Linked DNA regions of Homo sapiens. The protein of the gene in region 1 purifies or fractionates together with the protein of each later gene. This does not show direct contact. Each region holds a gene or a part of one and is shown in the gene's direction. Other genes may lie near its edges. The genes, in order: ZNF69 and ALDH1A2.

What was found.
Region 2: the proteins of ZNF69 (region 1) and ALDH1A2 purify together in Homo sapiens (affinity purification with mass spectrometry; one large-scale study listed by BioGRID and IntAct). This does not show direct contact.

The regions. Positions count from the first base shown.
Region 1 is NC_000019.10:11,894,234-11,898,054, forward strand, and holds part of ZNF69 (zinc finger protein 69), read left to right. Parts: intron 1-3,821.
Region 2 is NC_000015.10:57,995,906-57,999,726, reverse strand, and holds part of ALDH1A2 (retinal dehydrogenase 2), read left to right. Parts: intron 1-3,821. UniProt on the Homo sapiens protein: Catalyzes the NAD-dependent oxidation of aldehyde substrates, such as all-trans-retinal and all-trans-13,14-dihydroretinal, to their corresponding carboxylic acids, all-trans-retinoate and all-trans-13,14-dihydroretinoate, respectively.

The DNA.
Region 1 (3,821 bases):
ACCTCGGCTCACTGCAAGCTCCGCCTCCCGGGTTCATGCCATTCTCCTGCCTCAGCCTCCTGAGTAGCTGGGACTACAGGAGCCTTTTAGTAGAGACAGGATTTCACCATGTTAGCCAGGATGCTCTCTATCTCCTGACCTCGTGATCCACCCGCCTTGGTCTCCCAAAGTGCTGGGATTACAGGCATGAGATACCCCACCTGGCCTAAAAACAGAGATCTTATCAGATTGTCTTTTGGTTGAGGCTCCCCTTTGGAAACTTCAAAGGGTATTGTGTCTTCAGCACACTCTCCTATGTTTTCTTGGTCCTGGGTGGTAGAATGGGGTGACCTAATATTCCCACAGCTGCCATGTCTCTTGGAGGGTCTAGTGAGTATCAGCCCCTGAGTCACTCCTCCCAGGGGACAGACTGAGGTAGGAGAATGGGGACTCCCAAGAGAGCAGCTGAATGCCTTACGATGGAAGGAGACTCCTAGTATACTCTGCATCTAGATAGCCAACCCCTCGAGATGCTCAGCTTTTCTTTCCCAGTCCCAGTTTTCGTAAGTTGGAGACACATGGCTGGTCAGCCAGTTGGATGGTGCTATTGAGGGAAAGGAGAAATGATTCCTGTCCTCTGGATTGTGTCAACTGTGAAGGAAGACAAAACCCCAAAAGACAAGGAAAGCCCACCCCAACGGGGTGGACCAGTAGCCTGCAAATCAGAATATGAAATTGAGGTTCACAGCGGGGCATAGTGCGGTGTTGGTGGAAAGTAGTCATGAGCGCTTCGGTGAGCAGGATGGGGGTGGAGAGATGTCTCATGTGATAGGGTGACCTGTGCTGACACATGAGTCAGACATCACTGTGTTCCAGCCAGTATTGCCCCTCTGTGGGCTTGTCCCTTGTAAAGAATAGTTCATAGATTGCAGCTTGAGTATTTCAAATTAACTTTACGTTGCATTTTTCACTAGAGCCAAATCCAAGAATGATTGCATAGATCAGGTAAGACACAGAAGAGGCAACTCAACAAAGCCCATGACATACAGTGCATGGCTCACAATCCCAGGAGATGAGGGCAGCACAGCTGCAGAGCAACACAGAGTGGGGAGAACATCCAGGATGCACATTCAACCAGCAGGTGGGGAGCAAGACAGACAGGGACCTGTGGGCCAAAGCGTTTCTCAGGGTCCAGGGAATTGAACAAGGAGACGTCGCTCAGGGAGTTGTTTCTGGTGGATTTAGAGCAAGCAGGCACTAGTTCTGTGAAGTCATACTGTGATTAAGAGGTGGTCTGTACCATCCATGTGGGGTGTAAGGGTCAGTGGTACAAGTCAAATTGGTTATATCTAGCTGTCCCACAGGGAGGTGGTCACCAGAATGCAGTCGTGTAAGAAATATATGTGAGTTGACCACATGGAGGAAATGGGAGGAGGTGGAGAACTAGAAACTGTTAAGTTTGAATAAAGTTTTTTTCCGTTATGAGAAAGTTAAATCCATAAAGAAAATGCATGCTAAGGTAACATATAACTATAAGAACTCAGTATAAGAGGCAACTCTAGAATTAATTAAATTATTGTATGTGGAGATGATGGGTAGTAAACTGATTATTCTCCTGTAGATAACCATTTGTCGCTGCTTTTTCTGTTAAGTGTTCACCACTTGTATCATTGGCTGGCAATACCTGGTTTGTCATAGTTTCACATTACCTTAAACAGATGCCCAGACTGGGCATGGTGGCTGACGCCTGTAATCCCAGCACTTTGGGAGGCTGAGGCGGGCGGAACACCCGAGGTCAGGAGTTTAAGATCAGCCTGACCAATATGGTGAAACCCTGTCACTACTAAAAGTACAAAATTAGTCAAGCGTGATGGTGCATGGCTGTAATCCCAGCTACTTGGAAGGCTGAAACAGGAGAATCACGAGAACCTGGGAGATGGAGGTTGCAGTGAGCCGAGATCACACCATTGCTCTCCAGCCTTGGCAACAAGGGCGAAACTCCATTAAAAAAAAAAAAAAAAAAAAAAAAAAAGATTCCCTGGTTTCACAATTTGCTGTTTTCCATTGGTCTATCTTTCCATCTCTCTGATAATACCATTTTCTCTTAATTAGTATAACGTTCAAAGCTGTGGTGTTTAGTGGGTATATTGCCTGTCTATCTTAGTCATCTTGGGCTGCTATATCAAATTACCATAGACTGGGTGACTTAAGGGATAAACATTTATTTCTGGCAGTTCTTGAGGTTGTGAAGTCCATGTTAAGGGAGCTGGCAGATCTAGTGTCTGGTAAGGGCCCGCTTCCTGGTTTTGCAGATGGTCATCTTCTTGTGTTTCTTCATGTGACAGAGGAGAGGAAGCCGGCTCTCCTGTGTCTTCTTATAAGAGCACTAATCTCATTCAGAAAGGATCGACTCTTATGCTGTCATCTAATCCTAATTACTTTTCAGAGATGTCAACTTCTAATACTATATTGGGGGTAGGTTATTAATGTGTGATTTTTTTGGAGTGATGCAAATATTCATGCCGTAACACCCCCCAACCATATTCTATAGAGCATCTTGGCTATTCTTAGTCATTGTCTTGTATTTCGGTTTTTAGAAGTAGTTTTTTCTTAATTTTAGTGAAAAAAACAAACTGCCTTGTAAATTTCATGGACTAAAATATAACTGTAGTCATATTTCAGAAACGTTACATCATAGTGCTATTTAATCTCCTTTTAAGGACACATGACATTTTTTCATTTATTTCATTTTATATTGATGTTTTTCAGTGTAGACTTTTTGCATAATAATCATTTTATATCCTTCCTGAGACTTTTTTGGACTTGAAGAAAATTAGTTTTAATAGAAATTAGTGGCTGGGCATGGTGGCTCATGCCTGTAATCCCAATATTTGGGAGGCTGAGGTGGGTGGATCACCTGAGGTCAGGAGTTCAAGACCAGCCTGATGAACATGGAAAAACCTTGTCTCTACTAAAAATACAAAATTAGCCAGGCCTGGTGGCACATGCCTGTAATCCCAGCTACCTGGGAGGCTGAGGCAGGAGAATCACTTGAACCTGGGAGGCCAAGGTGGCGGTGAGCCAAGATCACGCCATTGCACTCCAGCCTGGGCAACAAGAGTGAAACTCCATCTCAAAAAAATAAAAATAAAAATAAAAATAAAGAGATTATTCCAGCATCGGCAACATGGCAAACTTTGCCTATACAAAAAATTACCTCGTCACTGTGATGTGTGCCTGTAGTCCCAGCTACTCAGGAGGCTGAGGTAGAAGGATCTGTTGAGCCTAAGAGTTCGAGGCTGCAGTGAGCTATGATTGCACCGCTACACTCCAGCCTGGGCAACAGAATGAGACCCTGTTTGAAAAAAAAAAAAAAAGAGTCAGGTGCGGTAGCTCACGTCTCTAATCCCAGCACTCTGGGAGGCCGAGGCGGGTGGATCACAAGGTCAGGAGATCGAGACCATCCTGGCTAACATGGTGAATCCCCGCCTCTACTAAAAATATAAAAAATTAGCCGAGCGTGGTGGTGGGCGCCTGTAGTCCCAGCTACTCGGGAGGCTGAGGCAGGAGAATGGCATGAACCCGGGAGGCGGAGGTTGCAGTGAGCCAAGATGGCGCCACTGCACTCCAGCCTGGGTGAGAGAGTGAGACTCCATCTCAAAAAAAAAAAAAAAGAAAAGAAAAGAAAAAAGAAAAAAATTAGTTTCAATAGAGTGTGCTCTTTTAAAAATTATATTTAGCAGACTGTTGCTGATAATTATAATTCACTGATAGTTATTTCTGTATAGAGTGTGCATTCTAGAATCTTACTAAAAATATTACATGTGCACAAAATACATAAA
Region 2 (3,821 bases), on another chromosome or scaffold:
CTTTGGGTATATACTCAGTAATGGGACTGCTGGGTAAAATGGTATTTCTGGTTCTCGGTCTTTGAGGAATTGCCACACTGTCTTCCACAATGGTTGAACTAATTTACATTCCCACCAACAGTGGGAATGTAAACAAAGTGGGAAATAGGAACAGTGTTCCTATTTTTCCACACCTTTGCCAGCATCTGTTGTTTCTTGACTTTTTAATAATTGCCCTTCTGAGTGGGGTGAGATGGTTTCTCATTGTGGTTTAGATTGCATTTCTCTAATGATCATTGATGATGAGCTTTTTTTCATGTTTTTTGGCTGCGTGACTGTCTTCTTTTGAGAAGTGTCTGTTCATGTCCTTTTGCCCACTTTTTAATGGGGTTATTTTTTTCTTCTAAATTTGTTTAAATTCCTTGTAGATTCTGGATAGTAGACCTTTGTCAGATGCATAGATTGCAAAAAATTTCTCCCATTCTGTAGGCTGTTCACTCTGATAGTTCCTTTTGCTGTGCAGAAGCTCTTTTGTTTAATTAGATCCAAATTGTCAATTTTTGCTTTTGTTGCGATTGCTTTTGACGTTTTCATCATGCAATCTTGCCTATGCCCATGTCCTGAATGGTATTGCCTAGATTTTCTTGTAGAGTTTTCATAGTTTTGGGTTTTGCACTTAAGTCTTTAATTCATCTTGAGGTAATTTTTGTATAAGATGTAAAGAAGGGGTCCAGTTTTAATTTTCTGCATATTGCTAGCTAGTTTTCCCAGCACCATTTATTATATGGGGAATCCTTTCCCCATTGTTTGTTTTTGTCAGGTTTGTCGAAGATCAGATGGTTGTAGATGTGTGGTCTTATCTCTGATTTCTCTATTCTGTTCCATTGGTCTGTGTGTCTGTTTTTGTACCAGTACCATGTTGTTTTGGTTACTGTAGCCTTGTAGTATAGTTTGAAGTCAGGTAGCATGATGCCTCCAGCTTTGTTCTTTTTGCTTAGGATTGTCTTGGCTATATGGGCTCTTTAGGTTCCATATGAAATTTAAAGTTATTTTTTCTAATTCTGTGAAGAATGTCAGTGGTAGTTTAATGACAATAGCATTGAATTTTTAAATTACTTTGGGCATTATAGCCATTTTCATGGTATTGATTCTTCCTATCCATGAGCATGGAATGTTTTTCCATTTGTTTGTATCCTCTCTGATTTCCCTGATTAGTGGTTTTTAGTTCTCCTTGAAGAGGTCCTTCACTTCCTTTATTAGCTGTATTTCTTAGGTACTTTATTCTGTTTGTATCAATTATGAATGGGAGTTTATTCATGATTTAGCTCTCTGCTTGTCTATTGTTGGTGTATAGGAATGGTTGTGATTTTTGCACATTGATTCTGTATCCTGAGACTTAGTTGAAGTTGCTTATCAGCTTAAGAAGCTTTTGTGCTGAGACAATGGGGTTTTCTAGATATAGGACCATGTCATCTGCAAAAAGAGACAGTTTTACTTTCTCTCTTCCTATTTGAATGCCCTTTATTTCTTTCTCTTGCCTGAGAAAGAACTGGCCAGAACTTCCAATACTATGTTGAATAGGAGTGGTGAAAGAGGGCATCCTTGTCTTGTGCTAGTTTTCAAGGGGAATGCTTCCATCTTTTGCCTGTTCAGTATGATATTGGCTGTGAGTTTGCCATAAATGACTCTTAATTATTTTGAGGTATGTTCCATCAATGCCTCTACTTTATTGAGAGTTTTTAACCTGAAGGAATGTTGAATTTTATTGAAAGTAGCCTCCTTTCTTTGTCCCTTCAACTCAGTGCTCTTTTGGGAAGAGTTCAAGCACAAAAATAGCGTTTATTTTTTAATTTGCTACTTAGACTAACTGTAGGGACTAGAAGATTCTGTCTCTTTCCCTGTGTTAGCCTGTAGCTAAATGCTTTTCAAATATGTGAACGGTTTATCCAAGAGAGTTTTAATTCCTCATAACTCAGTTTCTCTTGAGACACAATTATGGAGTCAAACTCAATTCCTCATGAGGTCCGACTTTTAAGATTTTTGTCTACATTTTCTTCCCTTTCACTTTTTTCGGTAACTTGTGATATTATTTAAGTAAAACAACTAAATGTCTAAGCATCATAAAATGTGTAGGGGGAAATGGTTTATGAATTGCCATGCAGTGCTTGTGTAGTTGCCTTGTGAGTTTTTTTTTCTGAACCATTCCAGGTTCCTACATGTGCTGCTAAAATAAACACGTGTACTCTTCTGTTCATCTTCCAATTTTTTTCCTCAGCCCCATTTGCACTCTTTCTTGACATTACTCTCTGATTCTGTGGTCTGTGACTATCCACCTGAACCCATCACCTTAACCAACTTAGAGAGTTCAGTTGCAGAAGATTTTCTTGTAAATGAAACTCTAGCTTATTGATCAGTGGTGTTGCTCCTCATGAAAAACCTTTTCAGAGATTTACAAATTGAAGAAGCATGGTAATTTGTAGTCTTGTAAAGAATGATATCCAGAAGATTCTTTAGTTATCTGCATACAAAGCTAAATAGTTAATTTGATGTTTAAAGTATTACTCAGACTTCATACTGTCATCCTATGGACAGTTGCAACATCTTCGCTATTTTTTCTCGTAATAGATATTTTAAATTAATTTCATACAGTTGCAGAATCCAGCCTACTTCTGAATTTCTTCCATTTAAAATATACATAAAACAAAGTCAAGAGATAAGTAGCAGATTGGGGAAAAATCTTTGCAATATTATGACAGAGGCCTAATTTCCTTAATATCCATAGAGCTCTTCAAATGGCTAAAAAGAATAACCCAATAGAAAAATAGCAAACAATATAAGCATGAAAAGATGTTCACTCTATCATTAAACATAAATCAAAACAAGTTGCAGTTTTCCAGCTATCAGATTAGCTGAAATGAAAATGTTGGAAAAACCTCAGTGTTAAAGAGTAGGAAAAATAGCGTGTTGTTGAAATTATGAATTGTTAAACTTTTCTGAAGGGTGATTTGGCAATATTTTTGAAAATCTGAAATGTACATACACTTAGATCAAGAAATTCCACAGATATGAAAAGATATGTTTGTAATGATAGTCTTTGCAGCATTATTTATAATAGCCTAAACTGAAAGTGACTTCTATGTCCCTTAGTAGGAGGGTTTACAGTAGTAACATTGTTTATTGAGCCCATGGAATAACCTGCAGCCACTAAAAAGACGTCCTAGCTTTACAGGAAAAAAAAAAAAAAGAGGGAAAAACAAAATATAAAAGACTGAATAATATCCCGTTTGTATAAAAAAAAAGAGGATAAAAGGATCCTATAAATACTTGTATGTGAATAAAAGTTCCTTGAAAAGAGGAAACAGATAATTATGGCAAGAGGGGGTAGAGATCAGAGATCCAGAGGATAGAGAGTGACACTGGGAGAGTAAGAGAGAGAGAGAGAGAGAGAGGCCAAGACTTTAATGTAATTATTTAAAAAATAAATAATTTTGAATATGTCAAAACAATTTTGTGTGATAAATGTGATTTAGGTGTGTTGAGAGACAGTGATAAACAATCTGATTCATATCGCTTCTCTTTTCCCGACCCACACAGTCCTCCTGTCCCCACCTTCATTTCCACCTATAATAGTTATGCTTTCATGAATATTAGCTGAGTGTTTTCACTTGCCTTAGGGGACTGCTTTTGAGAGAGAAAACAAGTATCAGTGAAGTGGCCTAAGGGCCGGCAGTGGAGGGAAAAATAAAGACTTTGCCCAGTATTTAAAATGAAAAGCTATCTGCTAAAAATGAGCCATTCTTTGGTAATTTTAATTAACCATTTAAAATAATTCAGATAAAAGC